Homo sapiens: one gene and its partners. The protein of the gene in region 2 purifies or fractionates together with the protein of the main gene of each other region. This does not show direct contact. Each region holds a gene or a part of one and is shown on either strand. Other genes may lie near its edges. The genes, in order: CARS1, GART and RO60.

What was found.
Region 1: the proteins of GART (region 2) and CARS1 fractionate together in Homo sapiens (co-fractionation; one large-scale study listed by BioGRID). This does not show direct contact.
Region 3: the proteins of GART (region 2) and RO60 fractionate together in Homo sapiens (co-fractionation; one large-scale study listed by BioGRID). This does not show direct contact.

The regions. Positions count from the first base shown.
Region 1 is NC_000011.10:3,047,310-3,050,960, forward strand, and holds part of CARS1 (cysteine--tRNA ligase, cytoplasmic), read right to left. Parts: intron 693-3,651; coding exon 444-692; intron 1-443. UniProt on the Homo sapiens protein: Catalyzes the ATP-dependent ligation of cysteine to tRNA(Cys).
Region 2 is NC_000021.9:33,510,998-33,514,648, forward strand, and holds part of GART (trifunctional purine biosynthetic protein adenosine-3), read right to left. Parts: intron 462-3,651; coding exon 255-461; intron 1-254. UniProt on the Homo sapiens protein: Trifunctional enzyme that catalyzes three distinct reactions as part of the 'de novo' inosine monophosphate biosynthetic pathway.
Region 3 is NC_000001.11:193,066,074-193,069,724, forward strand, and holds part of RO60 (RNA-binding protein RO60), read left to right. Parts: intron 1-2,960; 5' UTR 2,961-2,981; coding exon 2,982-3,561; intron 3,562-3,651. UniProt on the Homo sapiens protein: RNA-binding protein that binds to misfolded non-coding RNAs, pre-5S rRNA, and several small cytoplasmic RNA molecules known as Y RNAs.

The DNA of each region.
Region 1 (3,651 bases), on a different chromosome or scaffold from region 2:
TAATACTTTAGGATTCAACAATTCTAAAGCTGGAGGATAGACACGCTACAATCTTATGGAAGAAATAAAGAGAAAGAACTGAGTCAACCAGAGCCAGGCACAGCCTTAGCTAAAAATCACAAGGCTAGGGCCCGTGGCCTGGGCATGCTACGTGGAACCCCAGAGCCGCAGCGGCTCTGCACCCCACCACCTCAGGCAATCCTGCCACACCAGTGATGTGAACATACTGCTCCTGAATAACCAACTCCATAGGGCGTGATTTTATCCCAACCTCCATCCAGCAAGCGCTGCATCTGCCCATCCAGGCCACTTGCTCGAGACACACTTGGGCGAGGCTCCCTCTGGGGTATCCGCAGACGCCAGGTAAGCACCAGGGTGATGGAGAAAGCCCTTGACCTTGGGAGAGAGGTTCTAATGGCCAGGGAACCCACTCTGTTACTCACTTGCTTGGAGCCTGCAGGGCTGGCCTTTGCCACAGGGGCTACCCAGGAGCGCTTCTATGTGCCTGAACCACCGAGCCACGTGGAAGAGCTGGGGGTCAGCGGGCGGGGCCGAGAGCTGCCTGAACGCGTCCACGTCTGCCTGGGACAGTGAGTACCCCTGGACATAGCTACGCGTGCTGAGGTGCTCGTTCAGGGCTTGTGCCCTGGCTGCCTCGTCACTAATGCTCAGAATGGACCTGTAGTCAGGAGCTGCAAAGACAGAGGGCACATGGTGTCAGGCAGGCAGGCGGGCAGCCCAGAGGCCGCCAGAAAGACAGGGACTAGGGGATGGCACAGAACCAAGGAAAAAGGTGTTCAAGCCCTTCCCTGGACGCCAAACATCCAGAACAGGCAAAGGCACAGGGGCAGCGCTTCGACTGGGGGCGAGGGAGTGACTGCCTGACAGGTATGGATGGGTTCCCTCTTGGGTGATGAAAATGCTTTGGAACTAGACAGAAATGAAGGCTGCATGACAACATCATGCGCCAAATACCACAGAATTGTGTACTTTTCACTTTATGTCATATAAATTACTTAGTTTTTACATTTTTAATTTATGTTTTCTATCAGGGAAAGCAGGAACACAGTTCCACACCATCACAAATTACACAGTTCAGTTTCTGACATTTGGGGAAATCATAGGGGTCAGCACATCTGGAGTATAACGGATAAGCCTCGCCTTGGGAAAGCTACCTACATGATCATGGTATCCCTCCTGTCAGCTAAGTATGTTACGAGAATTTAACCTCAATTTTTAAAAACTCACAACAGAAATCCCCCAAACCAAACCAACTTCAAGCCTCTTTGCCGCAGCGGCACCCTCTCCCTCTGGGTGCTGGGGGATGAGGGGTAGGAGAACCCCACATTGACAATGTGTGCCATTTACACCCCTGCACCAAGAGACAGCTGGACTCTAGCATGGCTTCTGCAGGTCAAGGCCACAGCCTCAGGAGGACTGGGCCCCCTCAAAGGACCAGCCCAAGAAAGCACAGGGCTGCCAGGAAAATGTGGCTGCTCCAGCCAGCCTCACCTGGCCCCTGGCCCCTGGCCCCAGGCCCCAGCCTCCCTCCTTAGAGCCTTCAAAGCAGTAAGCGTGCACCTCCACCACTCAGGTGTGTCACTCAAGGACCCAAGAGCCACTGTTCCGCATGTCACCATTGGGAGGAGGAGCAGAACCCTAACTTTCACCACTGCCAGCTGTAGACAAGGCCGCCTTGACACATGCACGCTGACCAGCTCCATGGCTTTTTTCATTTGAGCCCCTGCTCACCCTCCTTCTCCTCCTCCATTCTCCCTTTTTTATTTTTATTTATTTATTTATTTATTTATTTTTATTTTTTAGAGACAGCGTCTGACTCTACTGCCCAGGCTGGAGTGCAGTGGTGCAATCAAGGCTCATCACAGCCTCAAAATGCTGGGCTCAAGTGACCCTCCAGCCTAAGCCTCCTGAGTAGCTGGGACTACAGGCACATGCCACCAGGCCCAGCTAATCATACTCCCTTTAAATCCAAAAGTCACCTCTGCTGAACTGGCAGGGAACGCAGCTCCTTCCCCTACTGTCAGGAATTAGGGAATAAAATCTGTCTCACCATTCTAAGGAATATCTCCCTGCAATTACCTCTGACACGGGAGTTGTGGACCAGGTGCTGTGTCCACAGCCCACGTCCCTAAAGTGGGGGCAGACCAGGCAGATGGTGCCAGGCTTCTGGCCAGAGGAGGGAGTCTGGTCCCTGAGCCCATGAGCACAGGTGCATCCAAACCTTGAACCAGTGATTGTGTTTGCTGAGAGGACTGTGGGAAAAGGACCGATGCTTGCTCCTTCCAGACAGATACCCTCTCACCCCAGAGTTCACTCAGGGTAGGAATGCACATGTCTGGCCACCCCTTGCTGTGCCAGCTGCCCTTCCTGGGCACAGGCTGCCCGACATCACAGCCATGGGGCGTGGATGCCCTGCACATCACAGTCCCCCTCTCTGCCTTCTCCCATTCCCTTTTGTCCCCCATCTCCGTGTTTACTCCTGGCACAGAGCCAGAGTCACCCCAACCAAGCCCACACAGCTTCTGAAAACAGAGAGCAGAGTGTGTTGCGGGGGTAACTGCACACGAATGCCTTTCTCTGCTTTGCTTAGTGTGGGGAAAGCCCTTCGTGTCAGGCCAATAACTGGCACTTCCCGGAACGCTGTGGTGTCAGCAAAGATGAGTCAGAATGGAGTGCACAGCTGCAGCAGCAAGAATGCCCCACTGGGCCGAGCTCTTCACCCGCCAGGGAGCCTACGGAGCCACGTGATGCCCCAAGGCCCAGCCTCCGTGGCTGCCGGAGAAGATGTCCTGAAGCCACCTCTTCTCTGCAGTAAAGGGGTGGGCACTCTGTGGGAGAGCCTTCCTGAAGTCTCAACATGGATGCAGGGCTTAAAATGGCTTCCTGGGATGACTCTCGCTGGTGGGATGACGAGTGCAGCGTCCCTCTAACTTGCCCTGCTTCCTTCCCACTGCACGGAGCCACTGTCCCATCTGACCCCAATAAGATGGCCACCCACTCCAAGCAGCCACAGGCACCCAGAAGCAAAGCTCTGGGCACACTCCCTAGCCAAAACTGGAATCACACCCCTTTACAAGTTATCCTTAGGAGCACCCATAGCCAACCCACGGGAGGATCCGGGGCCTCTAACTCAAAAGAAGCTTTGGACTTGAGAGCCAGCCCTTGTCACCTGGATTCCTGCAAGCCAGACACCGCCACCTGTAGCCAGCATGGCTCTCCCCTCACAGCCACAGGCCTCCAGCGGCCCTGCTGAAAAGCGCACGTTCACATTACTGCCCCCAACACCCACCTCGCCAGCAGCACAAGCCTGTCCTCATGCTGGCCATGGGCCCCCACCTGACTCACAATACCCTAGTCACATGGCCCCTCCACCTGCTGCTCTTTTTTTAGGGGGCATGCTCCCCAGATACCAGCAGGCCCCTTAATCCTTCACAGCTCTGCTAGGTGCCGGCTTCCCCACCAGGTCTTCAAGGACTCCCTGTCCATATGGCGCCCGCCTCTAGACCCTGAGCCTGGCTGCTCTTTCTCTCCGCAGCACCCCTGTCTAACACGTGCCCGCATTTCTTTCCTTCACCATCTGCCCCACCGCTCCATCTACCTTATTCACTGCTCGATCTTCAGCATCTACAA
Region 2 (3,651 bases):
TGTAGGGAGATTACTTTGGGAAGCGATCCTGTGGGGTGTGGCTGTGCATGCATGAATGCTTAGTTCTGAGGCAGAAATGAAGAGATACGTGGTATCGCTGGGGTGGGTGCTGTCATGTTACATCTGTGTAAAGATAGTTGCCATAGCGATGGCTGCACTAAAAGGTGGGCAGAAAGCTTGTGAGGCAAGGCTGAGGTATAGCTAAAATTATACAGCTAAAATTATATATCTAAAAATGAGTAAGGAGCAAGTACCTTCAGCTCGTGCAACCACACTGCCAATCACCCAGGCTTCTTCCTTGTGCTGCTGGATATCCCTCAGAATCTGCTCTGTCTGCTCCTTTGATACCACAAGGACAGCGCCAACCCCACAGTTAAATGTTCTGGCCATCTCTTCCTCAGAGAGGTGTCCTTCCTGCTGCAACCATGAGAAGACCCTGGGGATCCTCCAGGTCTGGGCATCTGAAAAAAATAGACACGAATTGTTTGATTTTCCTACCTTCTCACACAAAGTACAAAAGTATGCACATATTCAAAGATGTGGAAATTATAATCAGGCTCTGCTATTTTATGTAGGGTAAAACTATAAATTGGCCTCTGAGAACTTTTTATTTGGGGATCCATTTGTACCTTAGACATTAAGAACATTTTTTTGTTGACACACTTGGCCAGTACTCACAAATGAGTGAGGTTTTGTGCTACATTAACTAACTAGACCCTTAGACATTCCCTAATGGATCAGATGAGCTAGTAGCTGAATTCCAGCAAAGGCCAGTATACCATCCTTTTGTGAATGTTTGGCTGAGTCTTTGTGATGACCAAAATGCACCCAAAGTACAATGCAAAACTAGATGGCTTATCTACATATTTAGAGAAAATGCATACACTCCTCAAGAAAAGTTATGTTAATGGAAGGCGGATCAACACCCTCTCCCTCTCATTCTTTTTAAAATTTAGACTTCCTAGGTCTGCTATAAGAATACATTCTCTCGGCCGGGCGTGAGAATCCCAACACTTTGGATTACATGCCTGTAATCCCAACACTTTGAGAGGCTGAGGTGGGCGGATCACGAGGTCAGGAGATCGAGACCACCCTGGCCAAGATGGTGAAACCCATTCTCTACTAAAAATACAATAATTAGCTGGGCGTGGTGGCGCACACCTGTAGTCCCAGCTACTCGGGAGGCTGAGGCAGGAGAATCACTTAAACCTGGGAGGTGGAGGTTGCAGTGGGCCGAGATGGTACCACTGCACTCTAGCCTGGTGGACAGAGTGAGACTCCGACTCAAATTGAAAAAAAAAAAAAAAAAAAAAAGAATACATTCTCTCTTATCACAAATAATACAACAAAAATCTCTAATAAAAATTTTTAGGTAAAGGTCTATATACACACACACAACATTTCTGAATTTAAAAAGAATCTGGATAGTTCTTTGGAATCTACGATTATGGGATCTGATTTTTTAAAAAAACTATACTGAATTAAATTATTTATGATGCTCTTAAGAAAGGGAAGCCAATGTGAACTCAGCTTTTTATTAAATAATAAGGTTTACTATCAGTTCTGCCTATTTATTTGATTTATTTATTGGATAATTTTTTTTTTCTTTGAGACAGGATCTGGCTCTGTTGCCCAGGCTGGAGTGCAGTGGCATGAACACGGCTCACTGTAGCCTTGATGTCCCAGGCTCAAGTGATCTTCTCACTTCATCCTCCTGAGTAGCTGGGACTACAGGCATGCGACACCATGCCTGGCTATTTAAAAAATTTTTTTTTTGGAGAGACAGGGTCTTACCATGTTGCCCAGTCTAGTTTTGACCTCCTGGGCTTCTTCTGCCTCAGCCTCCCAAAGCGCTGGGATTATAGGCATGAGCCATCATGCTCAGCTGATAATCAGTTTTTTAATACTTTGGAGTTGATACAATTTTTTTTTTTTTGAGACAGAGTATCTCTCTGTCGTTTAGGCTGGAGTGCAATGGCGTGATCTCGACTCACTGCAACCTCCGCCTCCTGGGTTCAAGCTATTCTCATGCCTCAGCCTCCCGAGTAGCTGGGATTATAGGCATGTGCTACCACACTTGGTTATTTGTGTGTGTGTGTGTGTGTCTCTGTGTGTGTGTGTGTGTGTGTGTGTGTGTGTGTATTTTTAGTAGAGACAGGGTTTCATCATGCTGGCCAGGCTGGTCTTGAACTCCTGACCTCAGGGGATCCATCCACCTCAGCCTCCCGAAGTGCTGGAATTACAGGGGTGAGCCACCATGCCCAGCCTGAAGTTGATACAATTTTAAAAATGAGGCGGGTGCAGTGGCTCAGGCCTGTAATCTCAGCACTTTAGGAGGCCGAGGCCCGCAGATCACGAAGTCAGGAGTTCGACACCAGCCTGGCCAACATGATGAAACCCCATCTCTACTGAAAATACAAAAATTAGCTGGGCGTGGAGACGCACATCTGTAATCCCAGCTACTCGGGAGGCTGAGGCAGGAGAATCACTTGAACCCGGGAGGTGGAGGTTGCAGTGAGCTGAGATCGCACTACTGTACTCCAGCCTGGGCGACAGGGTGAGACTCTGTCTAAAAAAATAAAAATAAATAAAAATAAAAATGAATCACATGTCTATGACTCTTAGATTCAATTCCATTTATAGTAGCTGGGAAATGTCCATTCTTAATAGTTGACCTCAGATTTAGTAACTACATTGTTCACTATGCTCTCAATAGTTAAAAGTAAATAGCAACTTAAAACTAAATAGTGGTACATCTGTAAAATGGAATACTTGTTATCAAAAATGATGCTACTAAGACAAGGAGATAGTGATGACATATTTAATGGCAGGGCAAGTAGCAGATTACCAAATTATGATCTTGTTTTAGTGAAGTTTTACAAAATATTTATAGGAAAAAACACTGGCAGACTAAGAGTCTAGCTTCTATAAATGAACAAGTACTTCATGAATAATGTAAGTTGTAATTTTAATGTTGAAAAGTCCTGGCCAGGTGTGGTAGCTCATGCCAGTAATCCCAGCGCTTTGGGAGGCTGAGATGGGCAGATTGCTCTGAGCCAAGGAGTTTAAGATCAGCCTGGGCAATGTGGTGAAACCCCGTCTCTACTAAAAATACAAAAAATAGCTAAGTGTGGTGGCGTGTTACCTGTGGTCCCAGCTACTTAGGAGGCTGAGGTCGGAGAATCACTTGAACCCAGGACGTTGGGGCAATAGTGAGCTGTGATCGCACCACGGAACTCCAGTTGGGGCGACAGAGTGATACTCTGTCTCAATAAAAAACAAACAAAAAAACCCCCAGAAGTCCTTACTTAAATCTGTTGTCAAAGTATGATTCCTGGAAGAAACTTTAGAGGCTGATGCAAGGAATTGTGCAATGGCTTTTATTGGAATACAGACATTTGTGTAACTCAAACTATAACTGCTTTCAGGAATATGGCTATATCACTTTCAGTTTCTTAATGAGGTGACTACTATGTTGTTTTTAACTAGTGGTGTGCTAGAGCCAGCTTGTAGAGACTGTTAAACAGCCATTTTTAAAGCAGCTATGATGGGAGTATTTATACCACAAAAACTGGCAAATGCACAAATCAGTCCTGCCTCCTTTCCCCATTCATCAGCAGGCCACTGTTTTTTAACTATTTGAAAAGGATG
Region 3 (3,651 bases), on a different chromosome or scaffold from region 2:
TTATCCCTCATTCCTTCAAATCTATCTTTACCTATACTCTTTACCCTTAAAAGATAAAGGAAATATCTCTTGCTGTCAGTAGGCCAGTCTCAACCTGGATGCTCTAAGCTCATTCTCATTTCTTTAAGAAATTCCTTCAGTTATCCCCCTTCTCTACTGTATCTTCAGCTCTCCAAATTGAATCTTTCAATGTTAGCATCTTCCCATTGAAAAAGGTAAAAAGATTTTTTCTCTAAGTCCCATCCTCTTTTACTTTCCTTCATAGTTTATAAGTATGTGTCTACAAAAGAGTAGTCTAGCTGTGAAGTTTCTTCCTCACTGCATATTCTCCTGATCTCACTGTAATCAAGCTACTTCTTATACCACTCTACTGCAGTTGCTCTCACTAGTCACTCCTACTTGCTAAACCCAGTGGTCATTTTCTAGCCTTTTATTTACTTTTCCTCTGACCATTTGAAATTACCAACCATTCACTCCTTGAAGTTCTCTTCCTTGTAGTCCATGATACTATTCTCTGTCGGTTTTCTTCAACTCTGTGCACCTCCTTTTCCGTCTCTCTTTAAAAGGCCTTTCTCTCATTAGCTTTTAATGGTTAATATTCACCAAGATTCTATCCTTAGCCTTCCTTGTAATATATAAACATGTTCAAGTAAGCATGATCTTCAGAACAAAACTTCTTTTATCTTGTGTTCCTCTTTAAGTTATGACCGTATCTGTCAACATGTCTTTATGGCTCTACAGGATGCTTAGACAGTTTCTTTTCTAGAATATAAAGACAGATCGAGATTTCAGAAACCTCTTCCTGGAGCGCCTTCCCTAAACTTTATCAGTTTTTTAGTTTGCCTTCTCTGCTCAAATCCTTCTGGATTATTTAGACAGTATTATTTTATACTTCCTTGCTCACTCACTTTTCCACTACAGCACTTAATCACAATTTGCCTTCTCTGCACAAATCTTTCTGGATTATTGAGACAATATTATTTTATACTCCCTTGCTCACTCATAATACTTTTCTACTACAGCACTTAACTACAGTTTGCATTGTGATTCTATCCCCACAAATGAGTGTGATTTTCCTGTGATGAGGAGAAAAAAAAATTTTTTTTCTTTCTTTTTTTTTTTTTTTTTTTGAGACAGAGTCTCGCTCTGTCCCCCAGGCTGGAGTGCAGTGGCAGGATCTTGGCTCACTGCAAGCTCCGCCTCCCGGGTTCACGCCATTCTCCTGCCTCAGCCTCCCTCCTGAGTAGCTGGGACTACAGCGCCTGCCAACACGCCCGGCTAATTTTTTGTATTTTTAGTAGAGACGGGGTTTCACCATTTTAGTCAGAATGGTCTTGATCTGACCTCGTGATCCGCCCGTCTCGGCCTCCCAAAGTGCTGGGATTACAGGCGTGAGCCACTGTGCCCGGCCCAAATTTTTTTTTTTTAGTCTCTTTAATGGGAGAGAAATTGTCTTCATGTCTTACACATAGTATGTATTCAGTAAATGCTGGTTTAAGTTTTTGTTGGTTGTGCTGTTTTGTTAGCCATGGACAGAAGCCCAGTGCACCGAAATAACATGACAGATTGAAGGACCTCAATAAACAGTGATACTGTAGTAACAATAGTGGTGGACTGATGAAGAAGTGACAATTGTGGTTCCTCCATTAGAAGGATAAAGAGGGATGTTGTTTCCAGACAGCTAGTTCTAGGAGTTTTAGAGCTAATGGAAGGAGTAGAGTGAGGGTAGTTACAGATGACATAAAACCGTAAACCTAAAAATGGCTTAAACAATAAGGATACATTTATGACATAATAGGAAGTGTATAAGCAGGGCAGTTTCAGGTAACCCGATATCAAGGACCCAGGTTCTTTGTTTTTTCTGTTCTGCTCTCTTTATATATTGGTGTGCCATCTTAAACTGGCTTATCTCAAGGTCTGAAGATGGTTGTTACCACTCCAGGCATCACTTGCAAATGAAAATGTCAGAAGGCAGAAAAGGGAACATTTCTTTTTAAGAGCCTGAGCCCCCTTTTAAGACTGAAGAAAACCTCAAAAGTGTTCTCAGCTGACTTATCATGTCATACTGGCCAGTCATGACACATGCCCAACTCCCTATACCAGTCATGTGGCAAGGAGAGCACCATGATTATTGGGCCTGGGTCAAGCAGCAGCAGCAGCTGGGAACTTGTGATAAGTATACATGCTTAGGCCTCACTGCAGACCTACTAAATTATGAAAGAAACTCAGGGCAGTGCCTGAGAGGGCTGACCCACCAATCTATGTTTCAATTAGTAATTCAAGTAATTTTGATGTACATTGAGTTTGAGAACCACTGGCTTAGAGCAATAAAGATCCATCCCTTGGGGCTAGGGAAAGGCCTAGCCTCCTTTGAAGGATATGAGGCCAAGAAGAGGAGAAGAGAGAAGGGGGAAGAATGAATGTTAGATAGGCAACCAAACATGTTTACACAATTCTTCAGGGAGTATGATCTTTCTTACTTAGTGCCAGCTACTATTGCTGCCCTCCCTTCTTTTATTCTCTGTGTGGGCCTCAAGATGCCATACTGATCTACCTGCTTAATCTCTGAAGGAGCACACTGTATCTCAAAAATGTGACGCCTTAGTTGCTTCTGATTATCACACCACTGTGGCTATGATTTGTTTGTTTGCTGTGAAGGGCTTTTAGTTTCTTTAGATTATAAAAATAGGAATACAAAACAAAAACACTTTAAAAACTGAAGATATTACTGGTAGTCATTTCAAAGTATTCAGATATGGTTTTTTTCTTTCATTTTCTGCCTTTCCTGATTTTTCTTCAGGACATTTATATTGATTTTGTACTAAGGGAAAAACTATGGAACTTAAAAGATGTTTTTAAATTAAAAGAGTTAATAACATTTCAGTAAACCTACATTTTGTTTTCCTTTTGTAATTTTATTGTGCCCATCTAGTTGTAATAACATTTTGCCTTTTTGTTAGGTTTCCTAAAGACAAAAAAAAATGGAGGAATCTGTAAACCAAATGCAGCCACTGAATGAGAAGCAGATAGCCAATTCTCAGGATGGATATGTATGGCAAGTCACTGACATGAATCGACTACACCGGTTCTTATGTTTCGGTTCTGAAGGTGGGACTTATTATATCAAAGAACAGAAGTTGGGCCTTGAAAATGCTGAAGCTTTAATTAGATTGATTGAAGATGGCAGAGGATGTGAAGTGATACAAGAAATAAAGTCATTTAGTCAAGAAGGCAGAACCACAAAGCAAGAGCCTATGCTCTTTGCACTTGCCATTTGTTCCCAGTGCTCCGACATAAGCACAAAACAAGCAGCATTTAAAGCTGTTTCTGAAGTTTGTCGCATTCCTACCCATCTCTTTACTTTTATCCAGTTTAAGAAAGATCTGAAGGAAAGCATGAAATGTGGCATGTGGGGTCGTGCCCTCCGGAAGGCTATAGCGGACTGGTACAATGAGAAAGGTGGCATGGCCCTTGCTCTGGCAGTTACAAAATATAAACAGAGAAATGGCTGGTCTCACAAAGATCTATTAAGATTGTCACATCTTAAACCTTCCAGTGAAGGTAAGCATAAGATCTTCATTGGGAAGAAGGGTGGGTAAGGGATATTCAATAAATAGCAAATTTTTATTTAACATAAGACAAGTGTGTAAT